4 separate regions of the Homo sapiens genome follow, and regions 1, 2 and 3 are each linked to region 4. Evidence: fine-mapped expression QTL. A gene starts in region 4. Each other region holds a variant in brackets. All regions are shown on one strand. Distances are from middle to middle. Region 1 overlaps RMDN1 (regulator of microtubule dynamics 1). Region 2 overlaps CPNE3 (copine 3). Region 3 overlaps CPNE3 (copine 3). Region 4 holds the start of CPNE3 (copine 3).

Region 1 (8,111 bases), 37 kb before region 4:
CTCCAAGATATATCATTTAACTACTTTATGTCAGGAACCCACAACATCCTAACCACTGTCACCACACCTTCTCTTCAAGATTTCAACTTAGAATCAATCCAATTTGAAAATCCATCCCCCTGTATATCCCCTATAGATCCATTTCCCCTCCTCTACAAATATTTCTTTGCTTGATCTCCCATCCCAATGTGATCAATCCTTAGAAATCTCATACCATTTTGCATTGCTGGTATCCAGGATGCAAAATAATCTCTTTGCCTGAGCCATGGAGATTTATTTCTACCACTCTTATGGCGATTATTTATTTTACCCTATTATTTGTGAAGAAGCCTAGAATATTTTATATTTACACGGTTAAATGGTCACAACATTTAAAAAGCCGTAGAACAGTTATAGTTCATATATTAAGTTTAGAATTAAAAGAAAAGGCAATGTTTATTAGCTATTTCATAAATCTTCTCTGAAAAGTTCTCAATTCTTCTCACTGAAACTTGTAAGCAACTGAGCAGCTTCTGTCTGTATCTAAAATGGAAAAATACATGTTATAAGTAAACAGGAGAGCTAAGAGACTAACTTGTGAAATTTAAGTTTATAAAGTGGGGTTTCTAAGAGTTTCCAAAAACCAGATAGGACATTATAACAATAAAATGTCTTGACAGTGACCAGATGAGACTCTCAGCTCTTCCACTTTAGTACACATCCCATGACTTTTATGTTTTAGAAATGTTAACTCGATCTGCCATGTGTGTCAAACAGGAATAATTCTGCATTGTAGCAGGCAACCCGTAACATCCACCTGGTGATAGTAACTAAATTATTTCCTATATAGAAATATAAATGTCAATCAATTTACACTTGAAATGAACACACTTGTTTTCAACAATATTATGCATTTAGAAAATTATGCTTTTAAAGAAGTTCTTAATTCACCATTTAATAGTGCCTCAAAACCTTTCTGCCTTACTTTATGGGAGATGTTTTACCTGTTTATCCTCCTCTGTGTGTGCTGGATAGTCCTTGGCTTTCATTAGCCAGAAAGCAGCAAGCTTTTTGTTGTGTAGTTTCAAGTATGTCTTTCCTAAAAGAAGTAAGTTTTTGCTGTAGAAGTTTGGATCCACTGCACATAAGAAAGAAAAAATGATCTCAGAGGAAACAGTGTTGCTTTTATTTTTAAAGGTTTGTTTCTGAGGTCTAAATTTCAATAAATTTGTGTGGTCAATAAGTGATTAGACTAATGGGAATTCTCTTTTGTTCAACTGTTTATATCTCAAACAAATATTTGTAAAATAATAATTACCAATGAATAAACATCTACAAATGTGCTAGGCACTGCATTATACACATTTCTCATTTTCACAACTTTGTAAGTAGGTATCTCCATTTTATAGATGAGAAGCTGAAGCTCCCGATAGAATGTATGCTATTTGAGGACAGCAATACTCTTTTTAATCTCTTTAGTTCCCTATGGTACCCCACGTGCCTACAACAGTGTGTGAAACATAACATACATTCAGTGTACATCGGCTGAATAAGTGAATGAAATGATGATGACATATATATATTTGATCAACATTTACTGGATGTCAGCTATACTTAAACATAGAGGATGAAACAAAACCTCTGTTTTTTTCAACTTTATAATGAAGAGAGAAACATGAACACAACTAAATGTAATATAAAAATGAAAGGAATGCTTTACTAGATATACAAACTTTGAACTGCTACAAGAAACCAAAAAAAAAAGTGGAGAACATTCTTGGCTGAAAGAAAAGCATAAACAGAAAGCCTATGAATGAAAACATGGAATTATCTCACCAACTTAATTCTTCACAAAGTGTCCCCCTAACAATCTGAGATCCTCTGTATTCAAAGCATACTTTTTCCTGTATACAATTAATGATTAACTCCATTTGCTCCTTAACCAAAATTGTTTTACTTCTTTTATTTGAGCAGATTTGTGTGATGCCATGTTGATATACTTAAGTTGTCCTGGGGTTAAATATATTCGTATATTCAATCATCCGATCATTCATCTATTTACTCAGTCATTCAACAGATTTGCCAAGCATTGTGCCAAGTAATGAGTGTGCAATTGTGAGCCAGAAAAGACAAAGTCCACATCTTCTCAGAATGTACAGTCTTACACATGTAAATGTTCATAGTATTGAGTGATAAGTATCACTGGAAAAATAAAAGATACTAAGGGCATCAGAGGAGCCTCTGAACTGAATATAGGCCAGAAAGAAATAAGGTAAGGTCACTCAAGAATGACTGAAGTTACCAGGGATTATTTTAGCTCCATGAGGGTAGGACCATGTTTTTCTCAACACCCCCAACCCTTAAGTCTCTAAGGTCCTATATTTTTACTTTGTAATTAACTTTTAAATCTGTTAAAAAAAGTCATCCCTAGATTCATATTCATGATATGTGAAACAGTATGATCAAGAGAGGGTATCAGTGAAGGTAATAATGAATAAATCAGAATTGATGAATTACAGAGATAAAACATTCAGATAAAATTCTGTAGAAGATAACTGTTATCATGAAATGAACAAGTCCATTATGTGTGGGATCTCAAATTTAATAAACATGGTATGTCTTCTCCTGATTAAGTTTTATAGAATATATTTCAATGGTTTTTATGGTCTATTTGGTATCATATGCTTATGTCTCTTATCTCCCCCACTTGGTGTATGAATATTAAAAAGGATAAATTTAGGATGGGCTGGTGGCAGTTTCATAGGACTAGTCATTTTTTCAAAACAAACATAACCCGAAACTCTTTTTCACAATATCTGCAATAGAACTAGCCTGGCTGAATAGCAGAATTCCCATTTAAATGCCTCTAATGAGATGCATAATCTTTTTTTGTTTTTTTCAGACAAGTCTCACTCTGTGGCCCAGGCTGTAGTGCAGTGGTGCAATCACAGCTCATTGTAGCCTGGAACTCCTGGGCTCAAGTGACCTTCCTGCCTCAGCCTCCTGAGTAGCTGGGACTACAGGTGTGTGCTACCACACCTGGCTAATTTTTATTTTTATTTTTTGGTAGAGATGAGGTCTCGCTATGTTGCCCAGGCTGGTCTCAAACTCCTGGGTTCAAGTGATCCTTCTGCCTTGGCCTTCCAAAGTGCTGGGATTACAAGTGTTAGCCACCACATCTGGCCAATATGTGCAGTCTTGAATAAGACAATTACCATGTCAGAGACTGCTCTCACAAAGGAAGCAGAATTACATCAAATGATAGACATTCCAGAACTGCAGCTCTAAGTTCAATAGCAGCCTATTTCTCATTCAGGTGATCTTTACTGAATAAAGACTTTAAAAATTGTTTTACAGTATCTAGCACAAAAATAAGTATAACAGAATAAACAACTGCTTTAGACATTGCTATTATAGTATATATTCAGCATTCATACAATTTTAACTATATTAATATGTGTAATCAAAAATACCTTACCTTGTTCTGCCCTGTGAAAGTAGCCTAAGGCCTGTCAAAAACACAAAGAGCCCAAACATAATAAAAAAGATTAAAGAAGACAATATTAAAAAAGCATTGTCTCAAAGATCTACTGCTATATTATATTTAAGTCAGGAAGTAAATCATCTTAAAATAATGGTCACTTCTTCAACAGTGAGAGTTAACACCCAAAGTGAACGTAACACTTCAATCATCAAGATTACAATATATGGACTACTTCTGGTAATAACTTGGTTGCTGTTTAGAACTTGTACCAAACTAACATCATGTGCAGAAAGGAAAGAACATTATCACGTGTAACTCAGCTATTTTGACAGTTCTCTTAAATCATAACTAGTGATTTTTAGTAAAAACAAAATATAATCAAAAGCTGAATTTATTCGTTGTACTAGTGAATTTTTAAGAGTCCATTATTATTGAAATTCCTACATACAATGTTAAGTCTGAAACTCTTTTTGTCCTACTTAAGCTACTGTTTTTGTAATGCATTCTCTAATGACATTTGATTTCTAGAAACATAACTAATTTGATAAAGTAGAGCTGACTATATTTTTTGTCCTTAAAATGACCTGTCTTAAAAAAAAAAAAAAAGAACCAGGTCTCACTCTGTTGCCCAGGCTGGAATGCTGTAGCGC[A/C]ATCACTGTTTATTGCAGCCTTGACCTCCCAGGCTCAAGTGATCCTTCTCCCTCAGCTTAGCTGAGTGACTGGGACTACAGGCACAGGCCACCACACCTGGCTAATTTTTGTATTTTTTTTGCAGAGGTTTTGCCACGTTGCCCAGGCTGGTCTCAAACTCCCAGGCTCAACTGATCCACCAACCTTGGCCTTCCAAAATGCTGGCATTACAGGCATGAGCCACCGTGTCCAGCAAATGGGCATTATTTTAATAATACCATTATAAAATATTGGTGCATTATTTTAATAATATTTCTCAACTGTGTGTAAAGAATACAACTAAGTATTTTTTACATCAATTTCTACACTATAGCTTCCCAGAAAGAAAAAAAAGCTCCTTGTTATAATGTAAATAATACAAGTACAGCTTTTTCGATTGCCTGTTTTCTTACTCTGAAAAGCTTGTGATGAGTAAACCCAAAGTTTAACCAGAAATTCCTCTCAAATCTTATTTTTAACAAGAAAAGCAAAAGGCCTTGAAAATATGAGAGAATATGAACCTTTCATATGCTTTTTAAAATAGAAGTTATAATGAGTGTTCTTCTTTTATCAACTTAAGCATCTGCTTTACTTTTCTGTTATTGTGTGTAATACAGCTAAAACATGCTGGGTAACAGATGCTGTATTTCTTGTTCTATTTTATGACTTCAATATAGTTTAGATTTCAAACAGAAAATGAAGGTAGATTTTAGCCACGAGCCATTTTAGATGACAGTATTCCAGAATTACCAGCCACTCACCTAACGGGGAAAAAGAAAACCACTCACCAGTCAAGGATAATAAGTGTTAAGCCTTGTGATAACACAGTTGAATTGGATCATTAGAAATTGCTCAAGTCCCTCACTGAATCAGAGCTCCACATGTGTGAACACATGGTAGAATGGCGCTGTGGTTAAGAAATCCGTACTAACTTAACAAAGGACATCATACTACCTTCTCATAGGTGGAACTAGGAGGAGTTGCAAACAGCATTTTAGCAATTCTTCTTTGATACCAAGGCATTTCGGCAAATGTATAGCACCTACAGGGAAATAAAACAATTTTATACATTCAAATTGTACCTTCTTTTCTCTTAAAGTTAACTAAGCATCTTAATACTATAAAAGGAATCTTCTACTGTATGTTTAAACAACTTGTGCTTTACATGATATCTACTAGGTAATCCAGAGATTGACATAGTGATCCTTTAGCTGGGGGGTGTATTTTGTGATTAAATATAAATAGTAAGCAGTCATACTAATAACAGTAATATAATATACATCTACCACTGAGTGCATTGTGCCAGGTAGTGGGTTGATTCTCTCATTTATTCCTTGTAACAATTATATATGAGATAGGATAATTTCCCCTATTTTTCTTATAAGAAAAACTCAGAGAAGTTAAACCTTACACAAGAAAAATGACAAAGCTAAACATCAAATGTATAAATAACAGCAACCAACAACTTAAATCTATTTTTAAAGCAGCAAAGCAAATGATTAACCTCCAAAGATCTTTACAACTTTCAGAAATAAGTAGGAAAGAAAGTGTTGCATCTTTGACTAGGGTCTGAAGTCCTTAAGGCAGAAATTGCTATTTCATTTGGGTTTGCTTACTAGCATCTGACTTAGTGACTGCCCCTCAATTATCATTAATCCTCAGTGAATGAGTGTTAGCTTAATATGTCCTTTATCCTGAAGAATATATTTCTCTTTTAAAAGAGTTTGATACAGGACAGTTTACACTGGTACCCTTCTTAGATGGCAGTAAATATTCAGCTCTGCAGGCTATACTCAAAAGAGTGTCCCATCTATCTCAAAACAGACTCTTAAACCATCAAGTACGTAACACTTTGATAAAGCCTCATACCAGCAAAATAATAATCTACAGTGGACATAAGATCACATAAAAATAGAAAGATACTGAAAATCAGATTATATGGTTCCTCAGATTAATCAAGACTGTATCTGACACACTTTGAAGATACAAAGACCCTCTTGGGGCATTCTACTGTTTTACTATAGTTACATTAATCTAATTTCATTTAGCATGGTAAATAAGAATAGTCTTTTCAGTCTGTACATGTTTCTAAATGACCTGAATAACAATGTTTAACATGGTCATAATCAAATTTAGTATGTTCTAACAATATATATACAAGGGCTAGTTAATGGATTTAGCACTCTAAGCTCTGTCAGATAATATTTTAAAATATTTAATATCTTTTATATATGCAAAAGAAGATATTTATACATACTACAAAATATCACACTAAATACTACTGAAATATTTAAAGAAATTTTCTTACCAAATACCCATAAGGTGAATTGAAGTAGCATCTTTAGGGTTCAGTTCAATTGCTTTCTAACAAGAAATGAGAAAAATAAATCATATTTGTTTTCTAAACACCAATAAGTGCTTTACTGTGTTTGCTGAAGAAGCCATGATTTTTTAAAAAATGCAACTGTGTGTTTCAGTTCTCCCATTATAATATCAACTTTCTTCCTCCTGATTCTTTGATTAAATTCATTTCAAAACACTATTAATGACTTATACTAATGTTACTATTTTGTATGGTTCAGACATTTATAGTAAGTGTCTATCAAGATGAGAAAAAACATGAAATACATAAATGGATTAATTTTGCAAATTAATCTTGCAAATTAATCTATAGCTCTTAATGTTTCTTCCAAATTAAAGGAAAAATGGATAAGGAAGTACTTTCTTGGCAAACTGTAGATGAATACTGAATAAAAGTCATTCTTTCCTAAAGAAGAAAAGTGCATTTTAGTTTTTTAGAAAAAATGTAATTTTAGAAAGTCTCTTCTATGCAGATTTTAGAAAGTCTTTTCTATTTTTAGAAAGTCTTCTTGTATGCAGATTTTGTTCAACTTCCCCATCTGTACTTACCAAAGGAAAAATAAACAGTTTATAGAATATTAATAGAATAATTATGTGCAATGTAAAATATGTTGAATCTCCCTAATTTATATTTACTATGTGAATATAAACTACAGAATAAAGAAACTGTTCCTCCTTTTATCCATTATTTTGTTGAAAACAACTAAAGAAATCTTACAGATTAATGTTCATATTAAAAGGACTCTTTTTGAAAAAATTAAGATTTCCTAGTTTATGCTTTTCTATAAACCCACACTTTTGCTTTCAGTTTAGTAATGTGTGAGGTACACATTTTCAAATATTTGTAATGGTTAAGAGCATGGTCTCTGAAACCAGACTGCCAGGATTCAAGTCACAGCTTAATGACCTTGAACTGGTTGCAAGATCTATATTCTTACCACAACTGAGTTTTTTCTCTTTTATGGAAAAGTCATGTACTTAACTCATAAGGTTGTGGTAAAAAATAAATAAGTATCTTAACATGTTTATATGCAACTTATGCTCTAAGCAACCTTTCTCAATTGGGAGTTCCACTAAAAATTAAGCCCTACAAAAAAATTGTGTAAGTAACTATTTTTTTCTATTTCCTAAGAATGATACAGAAATACTGTAGTCCCATTCTAGATGCATAGGAAGGAAGTTAATTCATCACAATGGATGCCTGGGGGGATCAGGGTTTAATTAATTTTCCTTTTTTTTTTTTTTTTTTTTTGCCTTTGCCAAAATAAGGTTTTATTTTGAAAGTCATTTGAAAAACACTGAGGAAGGAAGGAGAAGACCTAAGACCCAATGGATGTAGGTTCCAAATTTGGATTCTTGCTGGCCCCACCAATGGTCTCTGTCAGGCCAAGAAGGTTCTGCTTTCTTTGGTAATTCCTATTTTTTTAGCTTCCTGGAGAAGAGATCTTTTCCCACAAGCCATCTTCATTTTTTTTGTAGAGTAGGGCTTTATTTCCAGGAAACAGTGTGTTAGTTGGAGCAGTATTTTTTTTTAAAAACATCAAGGTAGATCTAATATGTTCAACAAAGTGGGGTGGCTCGGCCAGACACGAAGTGGAAAGATTCTCTAGTATTTGCT
Region 2 (8,111 bases), 41 kb after region 4:
CTCTTTGGCAGTTAATATAGGTAATCTTTGTTTTATCTTCATACTTTTTGAAATGAGCTCATATGGATTTTATTGTGGGCAAAGATAAAGCTTTTTATTTTGGAAAAAACAGTATTTTATTAAATATTTTTTTCTTTTTAGTGATAAGATGTTTCCAGCTTTTGGTTTTGGCGCTCAGATACCTCCTCAGTGGCAGGTAAGAGGAAATCTCTATTTTAAAGCTTTGCCTCCTAGAAAAGCAGCCCAGCCCTCATCAGTCCTTTGTCCATCTTTGACAGGTATCACATGAATTTCCAATGAACTTCAACCCATCCAATCCCTACTGCAATGGTAAGTTAAAAAATAAACATGAAGACTTCAAATGGAAAGGCTCACTAGTCTTTGTTATTTTGTTCTTTGTTCTTTGTTTTTTTTCTTGTGATTAAAACTACTCAAATTTCATCTCTAGGTTTCATTTTCTTACATATTTAACTTTCTGTTGTATAAGGTAGAAGAATTGCACCAGGTTGGTGGTTAGGGTGGTAATGGTAATTACGGGGCAAATCAGTATTATGATGATGAAGGTGGTAAGCTAAATCCTCCTACCTTAAGAACTTTAATAGGACAAAAACATTCTCAATCTTTGGAGTAGATCAGTAAAAATATCATATATTAAAAGTATTTTTACATATAAATTTATTTAAAAACAAACCTTCAATAAAATGAGTAATTTGATATACAGATCTTTTGAAGCTTTTTTCAGAGTGGTAGTCACTCTCTACGAAGAGAAAAGTATCCAGCATCTAATACTTGTTGCTCACACAGTATTCTATAAGTAGCTGGGATGGGCAAAAGGAACAAAGAATTGATCTTCTATAGCAGCTTTCCTCTGTGTAGAGAGCAGGAGGCAAATATTTGTCTTTCATTTCACTTTTTTCTTTTATTTATTTAAAAAAATAGAGACAAGGTCTCGCTATGTTGGCCAGGCTGGTCTTGAACTCTTGACCTCAAGCTATCTTCCTGCCTTCTGCCTTGGCCTCCCAAAGTACTGGGATTAGAGGCGTGAGCCACCATGCCCAGCCACGTTTTACTTTTTTCCTTATACCTCAAGTATCCAAGTGCTGCTTCTTTTTTTTACCACATTGAGCAATCAGCCAGAAATGCCAGCTCTTCCACTAAATTATATATCAGACTAAAGAGTTTGGAGAAGGCAAGGTAGGTGTGGGAGCAGAGGCATAATTTAAAATTCTAGACAATACTCTAATTTTCTGCAAAGGGTCCTTTTGACAATTACAAATGTATAGCTTTCTAACAGAAGAAAATGTTTTTTCCTTTTCTTCCTAAACAATATTCATAAGGTGGAAGAGCATGAACAATTTTTGTGGCGGCCGTTTGCAATATGGTTTTGTTCTTTTCCCCAGAACACTTTTTCCATACTAATTCAGTGTTCTTTGAGGCACTTTCAGTGACTGGTTGTGACCTCTTTTATTCCCTAGCCATTTGAAACTGGGAATGTTATTCTTTTTAAGAAATATGCTTCATTTTTATAATGAAAGTGGATAATCTTTAGAATTTGTTGTAATTAGCTTTCATTTATTGTAAATGAATATGGATGACATATCATATGATAATTCATTTTAGAAGTTCAGTCACTCTGTGAGTAATGTAAGCCCATCCTTGGGCTGTTCACCAAGTGGTTTACACTCTGGAAAAAGCATCAGTTTGGTTTTAAACAAAGGAGATACTATACAGCAAAAAGCTCAGAGCCTTATTTTAAGGCAAGGAAGTTTAATCCCCTTTTCCTAACTAATCATTGAATCTAGTTGCCTTAGAAATAATATGCCTTAGAAATAACTTGTTACTTTGATGCATAGAAAGGGTTTTGGCATAATTCAGTTTTAATTAAGGAATTGAAAGCTCTTGATATTTGTGAAGAAATTATTATTATTATTAATTTTTTTTTTTTTTTTTTCGAGACGAAGTCTTGCTCTTTTCCCCCAGGCTGGAGTGCAATGGCACGATCTTGGCTCACTGCAACCTCCTCCTCCCGGGTTCAAGCAATTCTCCTGCCACAGCCCGCCCCCCCCCCCCCCCCGCCCACAACCGAGTAGCTGGGATTACAGGCGCCTGCCACCACGCTCGGCTAATTTTTGTATTTTTAGTAAAGACAGGGTTTCACCATGTTGGCCAGGCTGGTCTAGAACTGCTGACCTCTTGTGATCTACCTGCCTCTGCCTCCCGAAGTGCTGAGATTATAGGCATGAGCCACCGTGCCCAGCCCTAAATGAATTATTTATACCTTTGTTACTACTGGACTGACTACTAGTAACATGGACCTTCTGCATGTAAAATCACCCCTGCCTATGAATTAGTTATGTTCTCAAAGGTTGTTCATAAGACTACCTGTTCCTAAATTCAAAGAAACTAAGAGGAGTTTATTGGAACTCTTACATTTTAAGAGAAGAGAGTTGGTTTCCTGAAGCTTTCAAGCCAAGTATGGTCATGCACTAAAAATGACATTTTAGTCAAGGACAGACCACATGTATGACAGTAGGCCCATAAGATTTTAATATTTTATTTTTACTGTAAAGACATAGAAAAGGTACAGTTGCTATAATTGCCTACATTATTCAGCATAGCAATATGCAGTACAGGTTTTTAACCTAGGAGTAATAGGCTATACCATCTAGGTTTGTGTAAGTATACTCTATGATGTTCATACGATGATGAAATCACCTAACGATGCATTTCTCAGAATTTATCCCCATTGGTAAGTGACACATGACTGTATATGCTTCTCCTTTTTGTTGATCTGTGTTCTCTTAGACATTTTAAAAGCAAGAGACCTGTTTTGATTTACATTAAGTTTTTTTTTTTTTTTTTGTGGCAAGTATCTGTGATGATCTCAGCAAGTATTGTTGGAAATTCTTTAGAATTTCTGTTATCCTGTCTGCATCCTAAATGCTGTGATATTAAGGGCAGATTCAACAGGTGCTTGTGTGGGATACAAGTTTCATCAGCAGTGCTTTGACCAGCAATGTCAGTCAGCTTTCACTGGGTTGTGCTGTTGTAATAAACAATCTCTAAATCTCAGTGGCTTTAATGACAACAGTTTATTTCTTGCTCATTTTACATGCAGCTAGGCTGGAGTTCTCTCCATGTTTCTTATATTGGGACTCAGGCTGAAGGAACAGCCTTATCTGGGATGTGCTGCTCCTACGGCAGAGGAAAGGAGCAAGAGAGCTGGAAAAAACAGGCAGTAGTTCTTAAGACATCTCCTTAGGTATGGGTGTCACATGCATTGGTCAAAGCTAATCAAATGGTCCTGTCCAACTTTCTATTATAAAATGCACCAGCAGGTCTAGGGGTAGTACCCCTAAACAAACACATCAGTGCTTCTGCAGCAAAATGGATAAGTAACCTGGAAGTGAATATTTGGAACTAATGCAGTCTGTGATACAATGATTAACCTTTAACTTATTGAATAAACACTTGTATCAGTTAATTAACTAGAATTAATATTAGGTTTATCGCCATCTGGTATTTTTGTAGAACCTCTGGCCATATATGCAAATGATTTTTCATTTTATTAATAACTCTTTCTTACCTTTCATCATCAGTTGTATGATGTGAAACCTTTTTCATGGTTTTCTATCAGAGCCACATTCCCAACATGTATTAAAAATTAAGCACAGATGTAACAGTCCTACCGTAGACTAATAAGTAATTTGACTGAGATGAAAGTAAATCCCTTCTATTGGGGGAGGACAGAGCTTATAGGTTTTTGCAATGGATCATACCTATGGAGTTATGTAATACATAGCTTAGAGGAACTACTGCTTATAGAACTTTTGACTATTTAAAGCACTATATGTTGATACATATAATCAAATTAGCCAGTATTGTGAATAAACACATTGTGCTTGAGAATTTTTAGTACTGTTTTTTATTTGTTTGTTTGTTCTAGGAATCCAAGGCATTGTAGAGGCGTATCGGTCTTGTCTTCCTCAGATAAAACTCTATGGACCAACTAATTTTTCTCCAATCATAAATCACGTGGCCAGGTTTGCTGCTGCAGCCACGCAACAGCAGACAGCTTCTGTAAGTGCTCTATGGCCAGGGAATGGGAAGAATGTGGATTGGTAGCAGCTCCTGGTGCCATTTTTCTATGTTTTTGGTTTGTCATAATACAAAGTCAGGGCAAGATACAATAACACAGTCATTCTTGGTTTGGGAGTAACTTTTGTTGTTGTTATACTAGTGATCGTTAAAAATAAGACAACAGCAAAACAACACTTGGCATTCATGAGTCTTTTATCCTTGGAATTAACTTTCTTAGATAGGTTCTACCAAAAAAAAAAAAATGCCTATCATCTACCTTTTTGAAGTAGACATAACAAATTAAGCTTAAGGAAAGTTACCACATCAGATGCTGTTGCAAGATTTCTTATTGTACTAAAGATATTTGAATGAGGTAACCATTACCTATTGGACCGTGGATACCAAATTTCTCTTAGCCTCAGCATATTCAGAAGTAAGTTAGGGGAAACTACCTCATACTGTTGTTGAAAAGGTTAGATAATTCATATAAAGTACACAATGCCTGGGTCAGAGTAAACACTCAACATATGTTAACTAATATTGTAAATCTTATTCCTATTCTAGACTTAAATGGCCCAAAAGATGGAGTCACTACTTGATGTAACATTTTACTGCTCTCTGAAAAGGTTTATCTTAGGTGACACAATCTGGGGGATGATTTCATCACTTAAACCATATCTATTTTTTTGTGTGTATTTTAGCTTCTAAAATTTTTGTATTCTAATATTCTAATTCTAATAATTTTTGTATTTATTTGATCTTCTGAGAATGAAGTTTCCACTTGCCTCCTTGATAGATACTTTGACATATTTAATACTTGAGTTAAAACTGTTTATTCCTAGCCTTACTGAAAGGTTAATCTTTGACATTTAGATGTCCTGCTTCCATATATTTTGCCAACCCTATTTTGTGGTCTGCTGC[G/A]CTTTTAATGAACCTGCAGTTTTTGTAAGAGTCAATTTCCTTGTCATCAGAGAAGCTTAGAATATTTTATGTGGTGGTAGCTAGGGTAGAGACTGGCAAGGAAAATGAACAAGAAAGACTGGATGACTCATCAAGCCAGAGATGCCATTAGCCATTGCTTGACTTGCTCAGGGGACATGTTTTCTTTTTCTGGCAGCAATATTTTGTGCTTTTGATTATTACTGATGGTGTGATCACAGACCTTGATGAAACCAGACAAGCTATAGTTAATGCCTCCAGGCTGCCTATGTCCATCATAATTGTTGGAGTTGGAGGTGCTGACTTCAGCGCCATGGAGTTTCTGGATGGTGATGGTGGAAGTCTCCGCTCCCCATTGGGCGAAGTGGCCATCAGAGATATTGTCCAGTTTGTGCCTTTCAGACAGTTCCAGAATGTGAGTACCACTCCTCCCTACTCAAACACTAAAGTGACTGAACACAGACCTTTGCCCATCTACAACCAGGCAGTTGATTAGGTGTGCAGGGTTAGAGGATGTGTGAACACTTTCCTTTGTCCATTTGAGAGCTCCGATTTGGTTTAGCAGTGTTGCTTCAGGATGTTCATTATGTGCTTCTTGCAGGCTATATGATAAATTGTTTTAAAATAGTATTGTGACTCTCTCAAGTATTTTATCTTTACCTTTGTAACAACAGGAAAAAACTCTTATGTAACTGTATGCCAAATCCCCCTCAAGCTGGAAGTTTAGTTTGATGAATATCTCTTAGAAGACTATTTTACCCAGTTTACTCCAGTAGTAACATATTGCAGAGCTATAGTACAGAATCACAACCAGGATACTTACAGTGGTATAATCAAGATGCATCATAAGGATCCCCCTGGTTGCCCTTTTATAACCACATCCCCTTCTTTCTACTTCTAGCCCTTCCTTAACCTTGGAAACCACTTACTAATATAGTCTTCATTTCTATAATCTTATCATTTCAAGAATATCATATAAATGGAATCGTACAATATACAACCTTTTGGGATTGGCTTTTTTTCCACTCAGCATCACTCTCGAGAATCACCAAGTTTTTGCAAGTACTTCTTTTTATTGCTGAGTCATATTCCATGGTATGGATGCACCACCATTTGTGTAACCGTTACCCCACAGAAGGACAGCTGGCTGTTGCCTGTTTTTCTCTCTGATACATAAGGCTACTATAAACATTTACGCATGGGTTTTTGTTGTTGTTGTTGTTTGTTTGTTTTGTTTTTGTTTTGAGACAGAGTCTTGCTCTGTCACCCAGGCTGGAGTACAGTACTGCAACTTCCGCCTCCTGGGTTCAAGTGATTCTCATGCCTCAGCCTCCCGAATAGCTGGGATTACAGGTGTGCACCACTATGCCTGGCAATTTTTTTCTATTTTTTAGTAGAGACAGGGTTTTACCACGTTGGCCAGGCTGGTCTCAAACTCCTGGCCTCAAGTGATCCACTCGCCTCGGCCTCCCTAAGTGCTGGGATTACAGCCGTGTGCCACCGCACCCAGCCTATTCATGGATTTTTGAGCAAACATAAGTTTTTATTCCTCTGGGATAAATACCTAGGACTACAGTTGCTGGGTTATACGGTAGTTGCATGTTTAATTCTTAAAGCAGTTGTTAAACTCTTCTAAAGTGGCTATATCATTTAACATTCCCACCAGCAATGGAAGGGGAGGAAGTGGAGTGTTGTGATTATAAAGTAGTAATGTTAGGTAGGGATCTTTGTGGTGTTGAGGCAGTTCTGTATCTCAATTGTGGTGGTGGTTAAACAGATCTATCCAGATGACAAAATTGCATCGAATTATACAGAAACAAACACACACACATACACACACACACACACACAAATGAGTAATGTAAAACTAGAAATCAGAGTAAGTTCTGTGAACTGTATCAGTGTCAGCTGCCTGGTTTTGGTTTTGATACTGTACTATAGTTATGCAAGATGTTACCTTTGGAGGAATCTGGGTGAAGGGTGCATGGTACCTTTCTTTACTGTTTTTGCAACTTCCTATGAATCTATAAATGTTGTAAAAAAAAGTAAAAAAAAATTAATACCAAGTAAGTGAAAGAACCACATTTAAAAGTTATAAAACAACAACAACAAAATCATCAAATGTTAGAATGCTGGCACCGAAAAAGGACTTGACAAATGTTAGCAGGGATAGTAATAGCAATCATAAGTAACATTGGCTAGTTAACTCATTCCATATTTCATGGGCGGTTCCTAAGAAAAGGTACAGGCCTATGAATTAGAATTGCTTCATTTTAGTGGCTGCTGAAGTATCCCTAGTCTTTTATGAAAAAGCCAGGAAAATTCAGTTGCTAATAAAGTCACTTTTATTTTGTTTTTCACAAGGCTCCAAAAGAAGCACTTGCTCAGTGTGTCTTGGCAGAGATTCCCCAGCAGGTGGTGGGCTACTTCAATACATACAAACTCCTTCCTCCCAAGAACCCAGCCACGAAACAACAGAAGCAGTGACCACTTCAACAGAATTCTTTTGTGTTATGTGGAGCAATGCCATCTCTCACCCCAAATCGTGTATCTGTCATTCTACGTACTTTTTACCCCCAGCATTTATGATGTAAATCTCTTTCTCTATGGATTATATCTGTTTAAAGCATTCTTTCTAGGTTATTTTGGGGGGACAGTGCCAAGTCCATCTTTGCCCAGTCAATTCAGTGATTGATAGCAATTTACATTAATTGCAGTAAAGCTCTTTGGATTAGAAATTAGTGTGGGGAAAGCTTATTCTGTTGTTGTTTTTGTTTACTTTCATATGATGAAAATGCTGTGTTTAAGTGTTTGTCAATAGGAAGAATGGAAAACTGTTGGGATGATGTGGTTTGCAGGTTGCTGTGCCTGATTCACAGTGTATGTTGTATAAGCCAATGTCCATACCTGATTATGAGAGCTTCTTAAATTATATGATATCAAATTTGTTCCTGTAACTCTGTATACAGTGCTTTTCTGCAAGGTAAAAATAACCTGTCTATGCATCTGATTTTTGCTACAGTTTAGACACTGTGGTTTACAAAACAGCATGCACTCAACTTGGGACTTTATGAAAAGTACTGAATGAGCAG
Region 3 (8,111 bases), 51 kb after region 4:
ATTGCAATTTTAAGACCAGAAAAATTTGAAGTCTGATCAGAGATTTACAACTGTTCATTATAGTGGTGCCTTAGGCAATCTTTCCAAAGTAAATTCAGGGCCCCATTGCTACTTATGCCATATTTGGACATACTTTTTTTTTCTTCAATTTTGTAAACTTCCTGGAAAGCTGTCTTCACTAAGTATCCCCTAGTCTCTATATATGTGGTTAGTAGTCATGGAAATGACACATAAAGTACGCCAGAAGTTTGATGGAACGTGTTAGAAACTGTTTTGTGCTTTTATGGATGTCATACTTGACAATACATGTGTAAGTTACTAATATATGAATTGATGCTAAATATATCTTACATTTGAATTCCTTTTGGATAAAGTTATTTCTTGATGTGACAGAGTAGTGTGTTTTCATTTTTATTCTTTACATGTGACCAAAACAATAGAAAAGTTAAAAATAAAATATAGTGTTTTAGGTGGCCTTTGACTTCATATTTTACTGAATTAAACAATTTGGGGGATATTATTTTATGGGATTTATTTGTTTAAAAGATATTGAGTGGGTCCAAGATACTCTTCTGGGTACAGTAAAGGAAAGATTCTTAGCTTATAGCTAGAATGGCCTGAGATTATCAATCATGTTAAGAAGGATAGTGTAACCACCTAATTTTAAAAAAAATGTTTTAATTGCTTTTGTCATGGGCATTGGGCAGGACTTTGCCAGTGGTAACCAAGACAGCCACGATTGCTGCCTTTGTAGAAATAATGGTCTAGTGGGGGAGAGAAAACATTGAGCAAGTAATTATAGAGATGTGAGATCTGTGCGTGAAACAACATACAGTAGAGAGAGACCTAACCCATCTGAGAGGCAAGGAGCACTTCCCTGAGGATGTGCCATGTAAGCTAAGACCTGAAAGTTAGCTAGGTGAAGAAGGTTAAAAGCACTTATGAAGCTGTCAGGCCAACAGCAAGTATAGAGTTGAATGTTCTAGGAGTGGACAGAAGTTTGAGTTTGCTGAAATATAAAGTATAAGAGGGAAAGTGGTAAAAGAAATGAGGTGGAGTGGTTGGTGGTGTTTACATCCTGAGGGCCTTTTGGGGCAGGTAAGGGAGTTCAGACTGAGGCTTAGGGTAATGGGATGCCACTAAATTGATTTAAGCAAATGAATGATGTGATTATATTTGTGCATTTGAAAAACCAGAGGACCATACTTTTTAGGGCAGACAGATGAGTTCAGAAGCCCACAGAGTTCCACATGGAACCCTGTGACCAAATGTGGGTCTAGTCGCAATGGCTTTGCCTTGGTGAAGGCCAGATGGCAGAGCTGATAGTGGTCACCTTCTGGCAGACACTCAGCTGTTTGGTCACATACTTTCTAAGTGTCTGATTCTAGGTCTGTTTCCAAATTCTGAGCTTTTCCTGCCTCACTATCAAATTGTCTGGTAGACCCGTATCTTGTTGGTTCCTTAATGGTGCAGAGGCTGGTTCAGACCTGGTGATAATATGTCTTCAGGAATGCCAAACCCTTGCATGTAGCAAGACCATCACCCTTGTCACTTGTCACCAAATAACATCACTTCCTGATCATCACTACATTTGGCCAGATTCTCCAGAAAAACCACAGTAGTTTGAAATGTCCATACAGAATTACACTTTGGCTTGGCTGTTGATTCCTTCCTCCAAAATGATGGAAAGTATTATTATAAGCAGAATTGTGACTTCTTACTGCTTGGGAAAGGAGAGCTATCTCTGGTCTTTCATCAGCAGATGCTTACAAAGCATTTATTGGTGCTCACAAAGCACCAAGTTTTATAGCAGCACCTGGTCTTCTAGGACTGGAATCAGAAGAATTTCAAGGATGGGGAGCTTTAAGGAGTTCTCAGAGAAAAGTCTGAGTAGGAAATAATTTGCTTTTTTCAACCATCCCTTCCTTTCAGTAAGAAGTATTCAATTTTTCTTTGAACAAATATTTATTGGGTAGTCTATTACTGGCAATCAACAGGGGAATTCAAACAGAGTAAAAAAATTCTTGCTGACTTCAAAGCTTATGATCTAATATGGAAAAGGAGACAGTATATATGTTAAACAGAACAAGAGTGAGCAAGGTGAGGGACTCTGCTGTGTTGGAGTAAGACTGGCCCTTCTTGTGCCTTCAGGCATCCATGGTGATGAGGAAAGAGGGTCCCTTGAATGCTGCTTCTGGAAAGATGCTTCTCCTGCCCATCCTGCTATCATTCATTGCTCTCCACTACCATCCTGTGATCACTGTTCATGCCAGTCCTCACAAGAAGCCCAGACCATTAGTTTCCAACCCCTGTATTCTGACTCCATATCCCACTTCTCTCCAGTGCCCCATACCCTTCCACTCTGCCCTCAAGAACTGGGTCGTTCATTAGCAGAAATTTCTGATATCAATGTTTTTTTCTGAATAGTCCCTTCACCTTTTAATTCTAATTAAAACCTGCCTCTCTTGAAGAACATTGCTTCCTCTGCTGCCCTCTCAAGTGATGGTAATTTCCTCTTCCTGATCTACCCCTGGGCTTGGAGGCTGCGTAGGTACCCTCCTTGATCCTCCCTTCTGCTTTCAGAGAGCTTTTCCCTCCTCTTTAAAACCTCTGGCTTTGAATCTTGCATCATTAGATTAGATCACTCTCTATCCCTCCTTATAATAATACTGCTCTCTATTCAACCTCAGCCCACATTCTGAAGGTCATATGCTAGACCTTATCGTTATTGATTTAAAAAAAACCCTCCCTGATCGCATTTTCAAGTATTCAGTTTTTCAATAACAACCACTTTTGCAGTTCACTCCCTTTAGTACCACAACTCTAACAAGTCTCCCTCCATGCCTTCAATCACAAATCCTACCAACTTCTCAGTGTCTCGATGGTCTGGCCCCTCCTGCTCTTTCCTTTTCTAAACTTCTTTTCTACTAATCTCTGCATTGTCATTCACTCCAACCACATGGGCTTTCTTGCTCTTACTTGAATATGCCTGGCATATTCCTGGCTCAGGGCTTTTGCACTTGCCGTTGCCCCTTCTTGAAAACCCAGCCTCCCCTAGCCACTTGGGAACCTTGCTCCCTCACCTCCTTCAGGTCTTTATTTAAGCATCACTCAGTGAGGCCTTTTCTGATCACCTTATTTAAAAGTGTACCTCTTTCCCTAGTACTTTTTATTTTTCTTCTCTGTTTATATTTATTTTGGCCAGGTGCAGTGGCCTACGCCTGTAATCATGGCACTTTGGGAGGCTAAGTTGGGTGGATTGGTTAAGCTCAGGAGTTTGAGACCAGCCTGGGCAACATGGTGAAAACCCATTGTATTACTCCGTTCTCATGCTGCTAGTAAAGGCATACCCAAGACTGGGTAATTTATAAAGGAAAGAGGTGTAATTGACTCACAGTTCAGCATAGCTGGGGAGGTTTCAGGAAACTTACAATCATGGCGGAAGAGGAAGCAAACACATCCTTCTTCACCTGGTGGCAGCACGGAGAAGTGCAGAGCAAAGTTGGGGAAAAGCCCCTTACTAAATCATCAGATCTCATGAGAACTGACTCACTATCACCAGAACAGCATGGAGGTAACCACCCCCATGATTCAATTACCTCCCATCTGGGTCCCTCCCATGACATGTGGGGATTATGGGAACTACAATTCAAGATGGGGACACAGCCAAACCAAATCAGCTGTCTCAATACAAAAATTAGCTGGGTGTGGTAGAGCACACTTTTGGTTCCAGCTACGCAGGAGGCTGTGAGGTAGGAGGATTGCTGGAGCCTGGGAAGTTGTTTTTTTGTTGTTGATGTTGTTTTGTTTTTTTTTCTTGTCCTCCCTCACCCACTAGAATGTCAGTTCCAAGAAATCTGGGATTTTTGCCTGTTTGTTCACTGCTTTCTCCTCAGAGCCTAGAAGATACCTTGGCATTTAGAAGGCATTCCCTAAATAAACACTGAAAGAATGAATGAATGAAGTATATACTAGAGAATATATAAAGATAGAAGTTAGTTTATATGAGAAAATATTGAAGCTTAGAATGGGAAGATTTTCTATTCAATGTGGAGAGTCGTCAGGGCAGTGGGAAGATCTTGGAGAGCTTCATGGATGGTTTGACATTTCATCTGGGATTTAAAGGTTTTATGGGGCTTTATAATGTAGAGAAAGCGGAAGAGCCTTTCAGCAAAGAAATTGGCATTGTCAGTGGCATGGATTAAGAAAGCGTGGGTTGAGAAACATTGTTAGTATAGGGAGATGAATGTATGAATGAACCGTTTTGTTTCATAACTAAATCTCTTTATTCACTTTTACAAATGTGATATTGAAATTCAAACAATATTGATCTTCCACATATTTTATTTCTTTATTTTTTATAGAGACAGGGTCTCAAACTCCTGGCCTCAAGTGATCTGCCTGCCTTAGCCTTCTAAAGTGCTGGGATTACAGGCATAAGCCACCATGCCCGACCACACATATTTCTATTTTAATGAAATCTGTGGTTAGTCCTTTTCTGAAGGACATGCTAAATCTGAATTTTTCCTCTCAGATTTGGAATATAAATATGGTCCTAACATGGCAGACTTGATCATCATTTGACCCCATAAAATCTTGGCAAATGTACTTGTTTATTTGAAAAAGGCCTGCTTTAGGTGGATGCTACTTTTATCAAGCCTTTCCATGGGCTTCATGTTTGAAAAGCATGTGTTATCTTTTGACCTTGAACTCTGCTTTACTCTGGCGTAGCCCTGGACAAAGGGTCTTATTACAAAACACGAATGTTTTGTAAAATGGGACTTGGGGTAGGAATCGTTAAATTCCCTTGCAAGTCTAAGATTCTGGTGTAAACAACAGAGCTTGATTTATTCAAAGCTGGATGCAAGAAGCTGTATCA[C/T]GAGCCCAGTTAATAACCCTTAGCATACACTATATGCTGAATTCTGTATTGCTTAGGATTCCCAGCAGAGAGGATTCTCATAAATTTGTGGCAGAATCATTGTGTGCATTGGGCAGAGATGACTAGAGGTGCAAACGGACAGTAAGGGGGCTGTGACCTTTCAGGTATCACTCCCTTTCCTCATCCGAGGGAGTTATTATCTAGAAATGTCAGGTTGCATTGCTTAATGATGCACATTTATTTGACCTTTGCACCGTCACTTCTAGTCACAAAAGTTATAGTAGGAAAAATACAGTCAGTCATAAAAACCCATAGAGAAAAACATCAAATTTTACTACAGCGTGTGGGTATGGTACTTAAAATATCAGTTTCAAGTATCTTTGGTCTGATTAGTTATAATAAATTCCAGAACAGCATAATGATTAATTAACACCTTCTAAAGATTTAAAAAATTCCCGTAGGTGGGTAAAGGCATTATTGTAAATATAGAACAGGTCCAAATTACTAAAAGTACAGATTCTTCTCTTATTGGTTTTCTGTGTAGCAATTTTTCATCTAATACAACTGAAATAAAATAGATTTTTATATATCAAGGGTGTTCAATCTTTTGGCTTCCCTGGGTGACATTGGAAGAATTGTCTTAGGCCACACATAAAATAAACTAACACTAATGGTAGCTGATAAGCCAAAAAAAAAAATTTACAAAAAAACTCATAATGTTTTAAGAAAGCTTACAAATTTGTGTTGGGCTGCATTCAAAGTTGTCTGGGCTGCATACGACCTGCAGGCTGCAGGTTCGATAAGCTTATTATATATTATGTTAAGAGGGGACCAAGTTACTCCTTTCCTTTGAGTATACTTAGAGCTTTCGGCCCATTCTAATACTACAATTGGTGAAGTTGTGCAATTCATTTTATTTTTCTTTTTTTAAGTCCTTCTTTGTTTATAGACAGAGTCTCACTGTGTTGCCCAGGCTGGATTGCAGTGGCATGATCTTGGCTCACTGCAACCTCTGCCTCCTGGTTCAAGTAATTCTCCTGCCTCAGCCTCCCAAGTAGCTGGGATTATAGGCACCCGCCACCATACCCAGCTAATTTTATTTATTTATTTATTTATTTATTTATTTATTTATTTATTTATTTTTGAGATGGAGTCTTGCTCTGTCGCCAGGCTGGAGTACAGTGGCGCGATGTCAGCTCACTGCAACCTCTGCCTCCCAAGTTCAAGCGATTCTCCTGCCTCAGCCTCCCGAGTAGCTGGGACTACAGGCATGCACCATCATGCCTGGCTAATTTTTTGTGTTTTAGTAGAGACAGGGGTTTCGCTATGTTGGTCAGCCTGGTTTGGAACTCCTGACCTCAAGTGATCCACCCCCCTCAGCCTCCCAAAGTGCTGGGATTACAGGTGTGAGCCACCGGACCTGGCGTTTTAATTTTTTTTTTTGAGACAGAGTCTCGCTCTGTCACCCAGGCTGGAGTGCAGTGGCACGATCTCAGCTTACTGCAACCTCTGCCTCCCGGGTTCAAGTGATTCTTTTTTCTTGTGTCTCATCCTTCCAAGTAGCTGGGATTACAGGTACATGTTACCACGCCCAGCCAATCTTTTTGTTTCTTTGTTTTTTTAGTAGAGACGGGGTTTCACCATGTTGGGCAGGCTGGTCTCAAATTCCCAAAGTGCTGAGATTACAGGCGTGAGCCACTGCACCTGGATGAAATTGTGCAATTTAAAAGTCATTTCTAGTTCCAAGTTCTCTCTTGTTTAAAGAAAGGTTTTGCTTATTTTTGACGTGGTCCTTGTGTGGGGTTGGCAGATTTAGCAAACAAAAATACAAGATGTCAAGTTAAATTTGAATTTTGGACAAAAATGAATATTTTTTCATATAGGCAAGTCCCAATTATGGCATGGAGCATATCTATACTAAAAAATTATTCAGGCTGGTCATGGTGGCTCACGCCTGTAATCTCAGCACTTTGGGAGGCTGAGGTGAGCAGATCACCTGAGGTCAGGACTTTGAGACCAGCCTGGCCAACATGGTGAAACCCCGTTTCTACTAAAAATACAAAAAGTAGCCAGGCGTGATGGCACACGCCTGTAATCCCAGCTACTCGGGGGGCTGAGACAGGAGAATCGCTTGAACCCGGGAGGTGGAGGTTGCAGTGAGCTGAGATCGTGCCACCGCACTCCAGCCTTGAGCAACAGTGAGACTCCATCTCAAAAAAAAAAAAAAAAAAAAAAAAAAGGATTCATTAACTGAGTGTCCTGTGTTTTATGTGACAATTCTGTTTGATAGATTGAAAAATGGCCAGAATCCTTCCGCTGCCTCTGGATCCACTCCTTTTGCAATGTGACTTTGCTGTCCCCCCATTAAGAAGTGGATTTCATTTCTCTACCCCTTTAATCTAGGCTGGTTTTGTGACTTACTTTGGCTAATAGAATGTGTAGACATAATGATGTGTGAATTCTGAGCCTATGCCTCAAGAGCCTGGCTCACTTCTGCTTTGTCTCCTCTCAGAACCTTGTGCAGTCTCCACACCCAGTGTACCCATTTTCAGGATGACAGACCATGTGGTTAGAAAAAAGCTGTCCCATCTGAGACTGTCCTGAGACTGTTCTACACCAGCCAGCCCCCAGTCAATCCGGCAGCTGACTATAGAGCATGAATTAGCCCAGCTAAGACCAGAAGAACGAGCTCAAATTGGCAATCTATAGAAACCAATAAATGATTCAGGAGCTAATAAATGATTATTTTAACTTACTACATTTTAGTTAGCAAAAGCAAATTAATGTAGTTTGACAATGCAAAATAGAGCTGGGCATTTTTAAGACCAGAGGACAGCTTATAGGTTGTGCTGAGTTTTGGAGGCCACAGATAAAAGTGAAATAGAAGGTGATATTATAATCAATTTTGAGCAAATAACACTTGGAATGGCTTCAGTGAATCAGAGGAAATTGCTTGTTGAAATAAACACTTGTGCCCACAGGGTGAAAAAATTACTTCTTATAGAGATATTGTTTTCCTTCTTTAACTATTTAAGATTTAAAATATAGAACCTCTGCTGAGTGGCTTCTTCCTTCTTTCTCTGCAGATCTTATCATGATACATCTCTTTTAACCAGCCCATGCTGCACTGTATTTCTGGTGATTAATTGTCGAGGTCAGACCTGGGCAGTGAGGAAAGACCTGGTCTGGGAAGAACTTTCATATATAATAAGTCTTCACTTGACATTAACCA
Region 4 (8,111 bases):
AATACTGTCCTTTATACTAATGATTTTTTTTTCTAAATTCAAGATCAAATCTTGATAATGTCTTGCATTTGTTATGTTTCTACTTTCTTTAAATCTTTAAATCGTCAGCCTTGGTCTTTCACGACATTAGTATTTTTTAAATGTATAGTCCCATCGGTTTAAAGCAGGGTTTCTCAGCCTTGGCACAATTGAACTTTTGGGCTGAAGAACTCCTTCAGCCCGTCAGGCCATCAGATGATTGCAGCCTTGGCCAATATCTGACTGCAACATCAAGAGAGATGATGAGCCAGAAGCACCCAGCTAAGCCACTTCTAAATTCCTAAACCACAGAAGCTATGACAGATAATAAATGATTGTTCCTGTTTTAAGCCACTAAATTTGATGTAATCTGTTACACAGCAACTGATAACTAATATAACAGCCAAGTAAAGCATAGAGAGTTGGAGTGTGGAGTTTCAGAGGAAAGGTGTGGAAGTTTGATAACCTTAAGAATATAGGCTGGGCGTAGTGGCTCACACCTGTAATCCCAATATTTTGGGAGGCCAAATCGGGAGAACAGCTTGAGCCCAGGATGTTTGAGACCAGCCTGGGCAACACAGTGAGACTCTGTCTCTACAAAAACATGTTTTTCTTGTTGTTGTTTGTTTTTTGTTTTTGTTTTTGTTTTTTAATTTGCTGCATGTAGTGGTGCATGCTGTAGTCCCAGCTACTCAGGAGGATGAGCTGGGAGGATCATTTGAGCCCAAGTGTCCAAGGTTGCAGGGAGCGGTGATCACACCACTGCACTCCAGTCCAGGCAACAGAGTGAGACACCGTCTTTAAAAAAAAAAGAAAAGAAAATTAAAGAAGTTCGGGCACGGTGGCTCACGCCTGTAATCCCAGCACTTTGGGAGGCCAAAGCGGGCAGATCACGAGGTCAGGAGATCAAGACCATCCTGGCTAACACAGTGAAACCCCGTCTCTACTAAAAATACAAAAAATTAGCCGGGTGTGGTGGCGGGTGCCTGTAGTCCCAGCTACTCAGGAGGCTGAGTCAGGAGAATGGCGTGAACCCAGGAAGTGGAGCTTGCAGTGAGCCGAGATCGCACCACTGCACTCCAGCCTGGTGACAGAGCTAGACTCCGTCTCAAAGAAAAAAAAAAGAGAGAGAAAATATAGATGGAATTCAAAGCTCTGAGACTAAGGCTGGGCGTGGTGCCTCATGCCTGTAATCCCAGCACTTTGAGAGGCCAAGGCCAGTGGATTTCTTGAGCTCAGGAGTTTGACACCAGCCTGGGCAACATGGTGAAACCGCATCTCTACAAAAAGTACAAAAATTAGCCAGACACGGTGGCTCGTGCCTGTAGGTCCCAGCTACTGGCTGAGGTGGGAGGATCGCCTCAGGCTAAAGCCTGAGAGGTTGAAGCTGTGGTGAATCGTATTCGCACCACTGCATCCCAGCCTGGCTGGGTGACAGCAAGAACCTGTCTCTCAAAAAAAAAAAAAGAAAAAGAAAAAAAAAAGCTATAAGACAGGATGAGGTAATTAAAAATGTGACTGAAAGAGTGAAGGTAGAAATATGAGGATCAAAATACATAGGAGAAAGAATATTTTGTGAATATCTTTCATTTTAACATGCATTTAACTCTCCACCAGGTGGTGTTTTATTTCTAGAACCTTGTTAGGCTTGGTATCTAACATGAATTCAACACATGTTAAATTAATGGGTGAATGAATGAGAACAAAAGTAGAATGGGATTTAGACTGTAGTTAAGGAAAATGAATAAATACATTGAATAGCTATGGCACTATGTATTTAGATGATAGATTGCTGTTTGGATACTAAAAGTACAAAACCATCCCCTTGCCTCTACTCTTTCCCTATTTTAGTGTAAAGAAAAGTTTTGAAGGTTAGGTATGGATACTATATATTCTGGAAAATTTGAAACTTGCAATCCAATTAGTGGTGCCTAAGAACCTTCATTTACATGTGAAAGTAGAATCAAAAATAGAGCCAGAAACCTTTAGTAAAAACTAAAACACTTGTAGTACCTCCCCAGTACACTTCAGCAACAAAGGCCTTGTTTCTGCACTGGCAGTTTGTTCTTATCTTTGCCCCTGCTACCATTCCTGTGCCCCAGATATTTGCATAACTGGCTGCTGCTTATTTTTCAAATCTCAGATCAAATACCATCTTAGAGAGCTCTTTTCAGATCCCCAGTCTAAATAAGCTCACACTATCCTCAAGTCCCTCTATCACATCACCCTGCCTTAACTTTTCTCATGGCACTTCTGGCTGGCTGAAATCTCATTTGTCTTTAACAACTAACTTAAGATTCAACCGTCCTCTAGGATAGAAGTTCCTGTCTGTCTTGCTCACAAGTCTAGAGCAATGCACATAGTGTTTGTTGAATAAATGAATGAATCCTCACTGGCACTGATACGATTTTAAAAATGTTTAATTTGCAGGCCAGGCACGGTGGCTCACACCTGTAATCCCAGCACTCTGGGAGGCCAAGGCTGGCAGATCACTTGAACCCAGGAGTTCAACACCAGCCTGAGCAACATAGTGAGACCCCATTTCTTAAAAATAAATAAAATAAAAATGTTTAGTTTGCATTTCTTGGATTAAGAGTAAAGTTTTTACTTAAGAATGTCTGTGTTTCTTCATTTGATACCCTTTCCATTTCTTCTGTAATTAAAAAAAACCTTCACCCATTTTTCTATTGGGTGTTTTTTTTTTTCTTATCAATTTAAATGAACTTAAGAGGCCAGGCACGGTGGCTCACACCTGTAATCTCAGCACTTTGGGAAGCCAAGGTGGGTGGATCATCTGAGGTCGGGAGTTCAAGACTAGCCTGACCAACATGGAGAAGCCCTGGCTCTACTAAAAATACAAAATTAGCTGGGCATGGTGGCACATGCCTGTAATCCCAAGCTACTCAGGAGGCTGAGGCAGGAGAATCGCTTGAACCCGGGAGGCGGAGGTTGTGGTGAGCTGAGATCGCGCCATTGCACTCCAGCTTGGGCAACAAGAGCGAAACTGCGTCTCAAAAAAATAAAAATAAAAAATAAATGAACTTAAGATACTAACTCTGTCAGGTTTGGGACCAATATTTTTCCCAATGTGTTTTATTGATTTTGTCCCTGTTTCCTTGGGAAGAAGTTCTAAATTATCGAGCAGTCATGTATCAATATTTTCCATAGTGTTTTGTTTAGCTGCAGGCAGCATGGAGTAGCAAGCAGTCCAGCCTGCACTTTGAGGTTAGTTTACTTACAATTTGTGTGACTTCAGAAAAGTAGGCCAATTATTTAGCTTCCAAATCTCATGTTACTCAATTGCAGTTTTCATTTGTAAAATGGGTATACTGGCACCAAATACATCACAGAATCATGAGGATTAAAGGTAATGAAGGATATAAAATGTCCTTGGTAGTGTGCACATTAAGAATGCCCTAAATAAGCATATAAGCATGGTTAACAGCTAAGATGTATTTCGCTATTTTCATGTTGATAATTTGTCTTGGTAACTTTTTTTTTTTTTTTTAAGACAGGGTCTGTTTGTCACCCAGGCTGGAGTGCAGAGGCACGAACATGGCGCACTGCAGCCTGAGCCCGTGATCCTTCTGCCTCAGCCTCCTGTGTAGCTAGGACCACAGTCGCGTGCCACCACGCCCAGCTATTTTTTTTTTTACTTTTTGTAGCGGTGGAGGGGGTCTCATTTTTTTGCCCCAGGCTGGGGCTGGTCTCCAACTCCTGGGCACAAGCCATCCTCCCACCTCTGCCTCCCAAAATGTTTGGATTACAGGTGTGAGCCACTGCGCCCAGTCTTCTCAGTTCAGATATGGCATAAATTTTCTCAAATATTTAAATTATTTAATCCTTAAGGAATTTATTTTGGTGCACCAAACCACTTACCTTAAAGTCAGTTTTGCCTTTTCAGTAAGCGACTGGCCTCCAGAATGGCCTCGAAGCGCCAGCCTACTGGCAAGGAGCTGACATGCAGCCCGGAGTCAGCTCCCTGCGGATGGGCTGATCCTCGCGCAGGCTGTGCGGGGCGGGCGCGCACTGGACCCGCCCCATCCCCGCCCCCTCCCCGCCCCCTTGCTCTGCCAGTCCAGCCCTAGGTTCTCCTGAATCCCTGCGGTCCCAGCGTCGCTCCGGACGCTGCCAACCTGTTCTCCACCGTCGCTCGACTTCCACCTCTAAGACTCCCACGTGAGTGCGGGCGTCTCCCAGTTCCTGGGCCGGTGAGGCAGCAGCCCAGCAACCGTACCGCCCGGGGGAAAAGGAAAGTCCTGGCCTGGAGGATCCGAGCCCGCAGGCTCCGTGCGGCAGGTCCCGCCGGGCCCTGCTGCTGGAAGTGCTCCGTGGGCTTCGCGCAGCTGGGGATCGGCAGGTCGCGGGGAGGCTCCCGAGCTAGGTCGCGGCCTGGCTGGACCCAGGCACCGCCGACGCCTCCTGGAGGAGCCCGGGCTCGGGGCTCAGCTCCGGGCCGCAAGGCCCCGCCTGGGCCTGGCGCTCGCGCACCTGGGGCTGGGGATAGGCTGGGATCCGCCCTCCTTCCCTGGGCGGAGAGGGTCGGGCTTGTGGCCCAGAGAAGGGTGACAGGTCCCGAAATCGCTGCAGCACCACGCGGGGAGAGGGATAGGGTACCCACACCACGTCCGTGGTGAAGCCAATGCCCAGTTGAGCGGGGGGCGCGCGCTTCAGAGCACCCGAGAAGCTGGCAGATGGAGTGGGAAGAGGTGACTCTTGATTTCAGGGTAAACAAGGAGATTGTGAGAAGTAGTCTAGCAGCTCCCGTTTCTCCTCCAGCTTCAAGATTCTTCTGTCTAGTGTTTTGGGTTCCCTACACCAGGATTGTGGAGGAAGCGCACGGCCAGAACCCGTTGGGACCGAGCAGATCAACCATTTATGTTGCACTTAATGATCATCTGCACTTTTTGCATATCCTTAGTGTTGTCTTTGTGAGGCCACCTCTATAATGGATAATCAAATAGAGGGAAGGGCGGGATTGAATATTGTGACTTGATTTCAATGTCCCACAACAACTGTGCTAGACAGTTTTTATATGTTAGGTTATTTAACGCTCCCAAGCACTTATTAAAGTGATGTTACTCTGTTTCATTCTCCAGGAAACTCAGGTTGAATAATTCATCAAATTACACAACTGGTAAGTGGTGGCATTAGGGTTTGGAATTCAAGTCCGTATGGTTTTAGGGCACAGGCTTTATTGCTTAATGTAAAAGAACATTATTCTTTGGGATAAGCCAGATACCTAGGTTTCAAATCTATGCTATGAGGGCTGTTAGCTGTATGACCTTGGGCAGGATACTTCACCTTTTAGGGCCTGTTTCTGCATTTGTGAAATAGAGATAAAATGTCACAAGGTTGCTATGAGAATTAAATTAGATCCTACTTGTAAAACATTTAGCAAAGTGCTTGACACGTAGTTAGTGGTAAGCTATATATAGCCACATATATCCTGATGTCATTAATAAGGGTCAGCAAACTAGCTCTCTGTGTGTGCTGCCAGCCAGAGCCAAACAGAACTTGTGCAAGCCTAGAACATAGGTAGAGGGAAACAGCAAAGGATGGGAAACGAAAAGGGAACTGAAAACAGATGACATATATAATGGCAATTATAGTGACAACAATAGATGTCTCAGTCATTGATCTGTGGTACCCAGGGCCACTTTTTGCCTTTGCGAGAATTATTAATAGGTCAGTTCCTTTTGGCTGATGAATTGGAAAAATACATCCCACTCTGGGCTGAAAAATTTCAAACTCTGGGACTGGATCATTTTGAGACTCTAGATGTGAGGTGGAGCTGAATTTTAGGACCCCACAGACCAAAAGGTGCCTGGCACAAACCCCACAATGAAGTCTGCAGTTCTCTTTCAGGATTTCTTCTTTCAGGTCTAGTCCCTGAAGAATAGGAAGGGAGAGGAGGCTCCAGGACGGGAGAAACAGAAGGAGTGTTTGCCATTAAGGGTTGCATAATGACTGGACACCTCTTCTAATTTTACCTATAACTGTGAACACTTTATAGACAATGGTCTTCATTTTCATATAAGTTTATGGCAACCTATTATACATTTTAAAATATTTTATTTTCTATGCTCTTTATGATGGTATCACTGCTGCCCTGGGTATTTCCCTTGCAGCATCTGTTTCGGTACCTAGTTCATATTGTACTCCAACACCTATCAATTCTTTTATTTACTTATTTATTTATTTTATAATAAAGATGAGATCTTACTATGTTGCCCAGGCTGGTCTTGAACTCCTGGGCTCAAGTGATCCTCCTGCCTTGGCCTCCCAAAGTGCTGGGGTTACAGGTGTGAGCCACCACACCCGGCCCTATCAATTCTTGGTATGGCTTATCCATTGTTTCCTTTGCCTTCTTTATTTTTTGGTACTATCACTGGGCTTTTTTTCTTACTATTGTTAGAGTTTTCTCTTTTTTCCTCCCTTTCAAATGTTCTTTAGTCAGTGATTTATTATGCTAGAAAGTATGCCTGTTAGCAAAACTATAAAAGTTAATGTTAGATGTGAAAAATGATTATATGTCATTTGACCTTCAAAGATTCATAATGCCACCACTGCTCACCAAAGCATGATATTTCAGGTGGATCTTTTAGCAAGACTCAATGTCACTTCCATTGGTGGTACTCAGTGACCTGCAGGAGTCCTAACTAGAGCATTCCTTTACTGTACCCACCATTACCTTCAGCCTACAATCTAGCTTCCTTCCCACCAATATTTTCCCTTCTTGTTCTTGCTTGTGAGTGGGAATCGTATTGGGGTTTTTTTTGGAGAGACTATTTATTCTTTTAATATAACAGCTTAGCAGTATGCAATCATAACTTTTTAAAAGACATTAAAATTCATCAGTATTATGGTCACATTTACCAATATGAATTAGGTGGATAGCATATTAGTAAGTTTCCTCATAAAAAAAAAGAAGGAAATACTACATACTCATTTTAGTAAATCATTTTGAAATGTCTCTTGCAAATGGTTGTATTATATCTAGTTCCTGTGAAAATTACCAGAGCAACTGTGTGGTTTTCTGGACACATTGTTATCCGGCTATTTCACCTTCCCTGGCTTTTAGTTTACCACGCCTTTAGACTTCAAGGTGACGGTCAGTACCTGTTAAAAGAGGTACCTGCAACTGTAAAGAGGAACTTACTTATCTGTCCACATTTTCATGTTTATGTGTCAGAATTTTTTAAAAAGAAGTGAAAATTAAGACAAATACTTCCTGATGGTATTGTCAAAACAATTTTATAAAATATGTAAAATTGCACCCCACCTTCAGTACTTCTTGTTCTCCTTCTTTATTGTTCCCTGTAGCACTTACTGCCACCTAATATACTATATATGTTACTTATTTGTCTTCATTGTTGTCTGCCTTCCTGCAGTGTAACTAACCTCTCCCTGATGGGGATGGTGGCCTGCTTTGTTTATTGTTGGCTCTCCAGCACCTTAGAACAGTGCCTGACACACAGTAGGCAATCTATAATATTTGTTCAATAAGTGTTGAATGAATTAATAGTACTATTAAACTGCTCATGATTGGGAAATATAAAGGGATTTGCCCTAATTAAAAACAGCTGAAACGATGTGTTAAGCAACCAGGACATGAATATTCTTGAAATCAGGAAATGTATAAACATCTCAACAGCCTTTGCCCAATATACAAACTTTTTAAACCTTGAGAACCACATGGTTGTGGTTGTTGCTGCTTTAAACTGAAGGCATTTTTAGATTATTTGTTCACCGTGAACTAGAAAGGAGCACACGGTGATGAATTGTGAAGTGCCCATCTTGCCCAATTAAATATACATGCTCCCCTACAAAGAAAAGGAAAGGAGTCAAATTTTGGAAAGCATGCATTTAGAGTCGGGGCATGGTGGACACCAGGGCAGGTGAGAGGTTCTGGTGGCTGGTTCAACATCTGGGAAATTCCAGAAGGGGGGAAATTCTTAATGTGGTCTGAGGGGAATGAGAACCCCAGGAGACTTCAGTCTTCACAGGTTGGTGTACCTTAATATCAGATCCAGCCTGCCTGCTGCACAGCTGGCCAGCAGCTTTACTTAGTCCTTATAATGGAAAACTTT

The links. PIP is the estimated chance that this variant, and not a neighbour inherited with it, causes the effect.
Region 1: its variant is fine-mapped to the expression of CPNE3 in thyroid (GTEx, PIP above 0.99).
Region 2: its variant is fine-mapped to the expression of CPNE3 in nasal epithelium (TOPMed, PIP 0.94).
Region 3: its variant is fine-mapped to the expression of CPNE3 in whole blood (INTERVAL, PIP above 0.99).

What each region holds. Positions count from the first base shown.
Region 1 is chr8:86,473,837-86,481,947 of GRCh38, forward strand. It overlaps RMDN1 (regulator of microtubule dynamics 1), which reads right to left. Exons shown (of 10, transcript NM_016033.3): 6 at 6,441-6,496; 7 at 5,087-5,174; 8 at 3,458-3,488; 9 at 984-1,117; 10 at 1-522. The coding sequence ends at 472. It also overlaps the pseudogene NTAN1P2. Among named protein-coding and RNA genes, the nearest start is that of RMDN1, 31 kb to the right of the region's middle. The variant A/C (reference allele first, on the strand shown) is at 4,114.
Region 2 is chr8:86,550,905-86,559,015 of GRCh38, forward strand. It overlaps CPNE3 (copine 3), which reads left to right. Exons shown (of 17, transcript NM_003909.5): 13 at 142-196; 14 at 279-330; 15 at 3,947-4,080; 16 at 5,198-5,434; 17 at 7,384-8,111. The coding sequence ends at 7,506. Among named protein-coding and RNA genes, the nearest start is that of CPNE3, 41 kb to the left of the region's middle. The variant G/A (reference allele first, on the strand shown) is at 5,002.
Region 3 is chr8:86,561,024-86,569,134 of GRCh38, forward strand. CPNE3 (copine 3) reads left to right here. Exons shown (of 17, transcript NM_003909.5): 17 at 1-475. Among named protein-coding and RNA genes, the nearest start is that of CPNE3, 51 kb to the left of the region's middle. The variant C/T (reference allele first, on the strand shown) is at 4,880.
Region 4 is chr8:86,510,345-86,518,455 of GRCh38, forward strand. It overlaps CPNE3 (copine 3), which reads left to right and starts at 4,091. Exons shown (of 17, transcript NM_003909.5): 1 at 4,091-4,197; 2 at 5,118-5,155. It also overlaps a transcript of RMDN1 not described here. RefSeq lists silencers at 4,060-4,139, 4,260-4,599.